Homo sapiens: one gene and its partner. The protein of the gene in region 1 purifies or fractionates together with the protein of each later gene. This does not show direct contact. Each region holds a gene or a part of one and is shown on either strand. Other genes may lie near its edges.

Evidence for each region.
Region 2: the proteins of C22orf23 (region 1) and BTBD1 purify together in Homo sapiens (affinity purification with mass spectrometry; one large-scale study listed by BioGRID and IntAct). This does not show direct contact.

The regions. Positions count from the first base shown.
Region 1 is NC_000022.11:37,943,582-37,947,405, reverse strand, and holds part of C22orf23 (UPF0193 protein EVG1), read left to right. Parts: coding exon 1-125; intron 126-2,232; coding exon 2,233-2,364; intron 2,365-2,888; coding exon 2,889-2,989; coding exon of another isoform or gene 2,990-3,091; exon of another isoform or gene 3,092-3,159; coding exon 3,160-3,231; 3' UTR 3,232-3,824.
Region 2 is NC_000015.10:83,015,641-83,019,129, reverse strand, and holds the end of BTBD1 (BTB/POZ domain-containing protein 1), read left to right. Parts: intron 1-276; coding exon 277-423; intron 424-904; coding exon 905-1,063; 3' UTR 1,064-2,707; downstream 2,708-3,489.

The DNA of each region.
Region 1 (3,824 bases):
CAAGCAAATAGCCTCGCCCATCTACCTGCCTCCCATCCTCGCAGCCCGTCCCCACCTCCGGCCTGCCAACATGTGTCAAGCCAATGGGGCCTACAGCCGGGAGCAGTTCAAGCCTCAAGCCACCAGTAAGTGAGGGTCTCAGCTAGGGCCTTTCTCCATCTCCCTGGGGGAGGACAAGGGAGAGGGACGCAAGCAGCCCACAGGGCAGGTGGGAAGGTAGCTAATCAAATCCCCATGCACTTTGTACCAATGCTCTTGAGCCTCAGCACATGTTGGCTTAGGGGTATTCAGGGCGCAGAGGAAACCAGTCAGATGGTCCTTTTTTTTTTATTTTTCCAGAACTCAGGATTAACTGAAATCTACCACTTCCTGATGATAGGGGCTATCAGGGCTCAATGCCACAGCCTAACCTCTCCCTGCAGCCCCTATACATAAGTTGCCACTACAGGCATCGCCGAGGCCCCAGGTTCCTGAGCTTTCTTAGCCTTGCTCTGCTAAGTTTTGACAAAACTTTTTTTTTTTTTTTTTTTTTAAAGACAGAGCCTTACTCTGTGCCCAGGTTGGAGTGCAGTGGTGCTATCTCGGCTCACTGTAACCTCCGCCTCCCGGGTTCAAGCAATTCTCATGTGTCAGCCTCCTGAGTAGCTGGGATTACAAGTGTCCACCACCATGTCCAGTTAATTTTTTTAGTAGAGATGGGGATTCACCATGTTGGCCAGGCTGGTCTTGAACTCCTGGCCTCAAGTGATCCGCCCACCCTGGCCTCCCAAAGTGTTGGGATTACAGGCACAAACGACCGCTCCCGGCCTTTTTTTTTTTTTTTTTTTGAGACAGTGTCGCTCTCATTCTGTCACCCATTCTGTAATACAGTGGCATGATCATAGCTCACTGCAGCCAGAACTCCTGAGCTCAAGCAATCCTCCTGCCTCAGTCTCCAGAATAGCTGGGACCACAGGTGTTCCCCACACCCAGCTTTTTTTGAGACGGAGTCTCGCGCTGTCACCCAGGCTGGAGTACAGTGGCACGATCTCGGCTCACTGCAACCTCCACCTCCTGGGTTCAGGCAATTCTCATGCCTCAGCCTCCCAAGTAGCTAGGATTACAGGCACCATCACCATGCCCTGCCCAGCTAATTTTTTTTTTTTTTGAGACTGAGTCTTGCTCTGTCGCCCAGGCTGGAGTGCAGTGGCACCATCTCGGCTCACTGCAAGCTCCACCTCCCAGGTTCACGCCATTCTCCTGCCTCAGCCTCCCGAGTAGCTGGGACTACAGGCACCTGCCATCACGCCGGGCTAATTTTTTTGTATTTTTAGTAGAGGTGGGGTCTCACCGTGTTAGCCAGGATGGTCTTGATCTCCTGACCTCGTGATCCGCCCACCTCGGCCTCCCAAAGTGCTGGGATTACAGGCATGAGCTACCGCGCCCGGCCCATGCCCAGCTAATTTTTTGTATTTTTAGTAGAGATGGGGTTTCACCATGTTGGCTGGGCTGGTCTCGAACTCCTGACCTCATGATTTGCCTGCCTCAGCCTCCCAAAGTGCTAGGATTACAGGTGTGAGCCACCGTGCCTGGACTTTTTTTTTTTTTTTTTTTTTAGAGATAGGATATCGGTCAGGCGTGATGGCTCATGCCTGTAATTCCAGCACTTTGGGAGGCCGAGGCTGGCAGATCGTTTGAGCTCATGTGTTTGAGACCAGCCTGGGCAACATGGCAAAACTCCATCTCTACTAAAAAAAAAAAAATACAAAAATTAGCTGGGCACGATGACGTCCACCTGTAGTCCCAGCTACTCGGGAGGCTGAGGTGGGAGGATGACTTGAGCCCGAGAGGTTGCAGTGAGCCGAAATTGTATCACTGCACTCCAGTCTGGGCGACAGAGTCAGACCTTGTCTCAAAAAAAAAAAAAAAAAAGAAGAAAAAAAGAGATGGGGGTCTCACTACATCCATTAGGCTGGTCTTGAACTCCTGGTCCTAAGCAATCCTCCCACCTCAGCCTCCCAAAGTGTTGGAATTACAGACCATACCCAAACTCTTTTCTTGGTTCTTTCCACCTCTTCCTGCCTCTCTTGACAGTACAGTATTGCTCAGGAGAACCCAGGGTAGCAGCAGGTGTACGGAAGCCCTGTCTGCATGACCAGGCACCCTGCAGCAAGCACGTGCACTTGGGAACACAGACCATGAATAAGGGCACCCTTTACAGCCTAACTAGGCCATTTCTTTTTGGCCCTACAGGGGATTTGGAGAAGGAGAAACAAAGACTCCAAAATATCTTTGCCACAGGGAAGGACATGGAGGAACGGAAAAGAAAGGCCCCTCCTGCACGACAGAAGGCTCCAGCCCCTGAGCTAGACCGATTTGAAGAGCGTAAGACTCCGACGGACCAGTCATGCTGGGGGTGGGGGTAATGTGAGGAGGGGGCCCAGAATTGGATGGAGCAGTCAGGGGATCCCTGAGGGCCAAGGGCCAACAAGTGAGAAACACTATTTATTTATTTATTTATTTATTTTGAGACAGTCTTGCTCTTATTGCCCAGGCTAGAGTGCAGTGGCGTGATCTGGGCTCACTGCAGCCTCCACTTCCCAGGTTCAAGCAATCCCTCCTGCCTCAGCCACCTGAGTAGCTGGGATTACCAGCGCCCGCCACCATGCCTGGCTAATTTTTGTATTTTTAGTAGACACGGGGTTTCACCATGTTGGTCAGGCTGGTCTCGAACTCCTGACCTCGTGATCCACCTGCCTTGGCCTCCCAAAGTGCTGGGATTATAGGCGTGAGCCACCGCGCCCGGCCTAGAAACACTATTTGACAATAGAACCACTTCCTCTCCTCAAGAGAGGCAACCCGCTGCCTGCATCCCTCATGGGAACCTGACAGCCCTCTCCTCTGTCCAGTGGTGAAGGAAATCCAGGAGAGGAAAGAATTCCTGGCTGACATGGAGGCCCTGGGACAGGGCAAACAGTACCGAGGAATCATCCTTGCTGAAATCTCCCAGGTAGGAGAAACAACCAGGAAAGTGGGGAGGGGAAGGGCCCAGCGCCAAGTGCGAATGGAAATACAGGGTCTGCTGTGGCAGGGTTCAGGGGTCAGGCTCTAGCTCACTGCTGTGACAGCTCCTCAGGTTCCTAGCCCTGATACACCTGCTTTCCCTGATGCCCTTTGCAGAAACTCCGGGAAATGGAAGACATTGACCACAGAAGGAGTGAGGAACTTAGGAAGGGTCTTGCCACCACTTAATCTGTCTCCAGAGACGGGCAGGGTAGCCCAAGCTCGACCACTGGAGTCCACTCCTCTGCCAGGCAGGGCCATCCTCAGGCCAGCCCATCCTACCAGCCTTCTGCCACGTCAGGTGGTGGCATAGCACTGCCCTGCAGTACCCCAAGGCATACTCAGCAGCCTAGCCCCTGCCCCGGAATGCAGATGGAGCCTCTGAGACTCACAGCCCCGTCCGCAGAGAAGCAAAGCCCGAGCATCCCTACTAGGACATGTGTCTAAAGGTATCCACTGGGCCTGCTTCCCACCACTTCTGACCTGTGGCCTGTTCATTTAGTTTTCTGAATTCAGGAATGAATATGATTCCTTTCTTCCTGTTTTAGGATTTACTTATTTGATTTCTTACCGCCTTAGGCAAGTATTCAACCACAATGATTAACTGGCCAATAAAACATATTTAACGTGGGTCATTACAAGCACCATTTTGTTTTCAGAGGGATAAGCTTATTTGTTCAAGGCATTAGACTTTGTCAAGCCCAGATGGTTTCTAGCTACCTGTTTGCATATTTCAAGTGGCAACGGGAACCAACCTCTTGGGCACCCCATGGCTGGCTGCT
Region 2 (3,489 bases), on another chromosome or scaffold:
CGAGACCCCAACACTGCACCCCAGGCTAGGCAACAGAGTGAGAGAGTCTGTCTCAAAAACACACACACACACACACCCACCAACAGAGTGAGAGAGTCTGTCTCAAACACACACACACACACACCACCCCCCACCCCCCCACCCCCAAGGCTAGGCAACAGAGTGAGAGTCTGTCTCAAAACACACACGCACACATTGCTAAGGGCTTTATATTATTTTCTATAGTTTGCTTTATTTGGTTTAACTTAAATGTAACTTGTCTCTTAAAAATTACAGATCATTGAATATGAGAAAAAGCAAACCCTGGGACAGAATGATACCGGCTTTAGTTGTGATGGGACAGCTAACACATTCAGGGTCATGTTCAAGGAACCCATAGAGATCCTGCCCAATGTGTGCTACACAGCATGTGCAACACTCAAAGTAAGAGTCATGCACTATGTTCCAGATGGTTTCCTCTTGAATGTTGCAGAATGTGTGTTTTAGAAGCTGAGAGTCACTGACAGCTGAGCCATTTATAAAGAGGGGGGAAAAGAAGCTGGGAGCTAAAATATTCCACTGCCTTCCGAAAAGAAGTACTTCTCCCCACAGCTCTGTTCTGAAAGAAATAGCTCTTCTTAAGAAGTAGCCCTTTGTTTCAGTAAGCAGTTGAATGTTTGGCAGAAAATAAAAGTTATTTTTGTAAAATCTTTTCACTATTCTCTAATAGCTGGGCTGTACATTCAGTATTTTTATTCATTAATTAGTTTTTTGGTAAAAACTTCATTTTTCTCTAAATGACAGCATAAAATTTTATATAGGAATGATAGTGAAATATAATGGAACATTAATCTAATTAAAACACCACATTAAACTGAGTGCTTATTAAATGAAAATTACTAAGGAACCTTTTGTTCTCATTTAGGGTCCAGATTCCCACTATGGCACAAAAGGATTGAAGAAAGTAGTGCATGAGACACCTGCTGCAAGCAAGACTGTTTTTTTCTTTTTTAGTTCCCCTGGCAATAATAATGGCACTTCAATAGAAGATGGACAAATTCCAGAAATCATATTTTATACATAATTTAGCATTATAATACATCTTGGCTAAATAATACCATACAATCTAGTGTCAAAAACATAAATGGCCACAAAAAAGTAGTTTGAGTGTTATGAATATTTAAAATTGTAAGATAAGAAACAGTTTCTTAGAGCAGATAGAAAAATGCTTATTTAAATCTTTGCATGATTTAAAAACAGATTTTCCATTTTCTTACAACTTTAAGAGAAAAGAACTGGGTTTAATGGTTTAAAAAAAAGCACAGCTTTTTCACCTTCATCTTGTATAATTTCATAGATTGGCTGACTTAGGGTCTTTCAATAGTTTGGGAATTGAAAGATTCTTGTTATATATAGCTAGTTTGGGTTTGTTTTTGTTTTAACTATTTTGAAGGTTAGGTGAGATGGGCAAATAGGCTTAACTATTTTGAAGGTTGGATGAAAAGAGATGGGTCAGTATTCCTACAGAATTCTTATTAACTCAAATAACTAAATTTCAGAAAATTAAGAAGCTGACTTTATATTTGGTGGTTTGAAGTATCTTGTTGTTAGCATTTGTAATAATGCTAAAAAAGGCCTAATAAAATGCCCAAGAAAATATTCAGTGCATTTATAGAGAAGGATATTTTGTAGTAGTATAGTAATGTGTTATGTAGTACAGTTTTAAAGCTATAAATGGAATTTTGTGTAAATTCACAAAAATGTGATATAAACAGGATCTAAGACTGGATTCCCTGTCACTAAACTGCACCACTATACCTGTCTCTCTGTGTGGGGGACACTGCTGATGATTCCCAAGATTGAGATGATGACGGTGATGACGACTGGGTGAACAGCCATCACTTCAACATTGTGATAATCCTTCACAGCAAGAAACCGAATAAAATACTAACATTTCTAACAACTGCTCTGACATTGTAAAGAGATCCAACAGAATCACTCCTGCTGAAAAATACGCTTTCTGCCACCTACACATTTCTATTTAGGAAGTAAAATTTGCTTCATGGTCATGACCCCATTAGTCAGTGTTACAGCTGTGTTGGGGATAGGAAGTATATCTGGCAGATTGATATTTATACACTTTTTTATAAAGCAGATTTTAAAATATAGTAACATCCATTTTTTTCCCTTGAAAGTGATTCTCTTATAAAAAATGAAAGTGGAGTTTAAGGTATATCAAATCGTTGTGGAAGGTGATTAAAAATCAAAATTCTTTTAAATATCAACTTAATTTTTTCTAAGTAAGATACAAAAAATTTTCATCTAAAGTAATATTTCACTTTATATTGTAAAGAAGGTAGGTATATTGGTGGCTGAGGTCTCTTGAAATTGCTAAAGGGAAATTTTTCTATGGTAATGCTCTTACGGATATAAACCTCAGTTAAATGGAATTATCTATGGGATGTGTGGTTCTGGTTAACTAAAAATTAACCAGTAAACACTCTGTAGTAACCATTACAGAAAATACTTCTGCCTTAAAAAATATGATATGCCAGAGATGAGTTAGTGTTTCTTGACGTTGGAGACCTTTTAAATGCCTCATCTGTTGTACTGAACAATTGAAACTGCATGCAGCCATAAAAGGGACAAGAAACAGAACTGTTTACTAACTTTGGGACATCCCCTGGAGTTTTTAAAAATAAATAAATATATATATATATAAAAAAAACTCTTTTATGTCATTTGCCTTTTTCTTCTAAAAGTGAATATAAACAGAATTTTGATTTGTTTTTTGTTTGTTTTTTGAGATGAAGCCTCGCTCTGTTGCCAAGGCTGGAGGGCAGTGGTGCAATCTCGGCTCACTGCATCCTCCACCTCCTGGATTCAAGCTATTATGCGGCCTCAGCCTCCAGAGTAGCTGGGATTACAGGTGCCCACCACCACGCCCAGCTAATTTTTGTATTTTTAGTAGAGATGGGGTTTCACTATGTTGGCCAGGCTGGTCTCGAACTCCTGACCTCAGCTGCCTTGGCCTCCCAGAGTGCTGGGATTGATTACAGGCGTGAGCCACCACGCCTGGCTGTCAACACCATTTTGGAACAAAGGTTCTAGTTAATTGAGGTTTAACTTAATGGGAGTAATGCAATACAAAATACAAATACCTCATTGCTGATTTAAACCAGTTCATAGGAACTGCAGTGATAACTGCCGCAGCCTTTTGTTTCTTGATCATTTCTTGTGGCCTCAGGTTTTTCTCCTGTTCTAATCAGGAGGTGGAGGTTGAATGTGGGAGAATCCAATAAATAATCTTATTTACTGTTAAGAGTGTGACTATCATCTTACAGCTGTTTATTAATAACTACCCAAGTGACTACTAGGCTCTGCAATGAGTACTTTACTACATTCTTACTTGTTTCTCACAGCATCAGTATGAGGGAAGTACCCATTTCACAGGCAAAGAAATTAAAAGGTCAGCTAGGCTGGGCACGGTGGCTCACACCTGTAATCCCA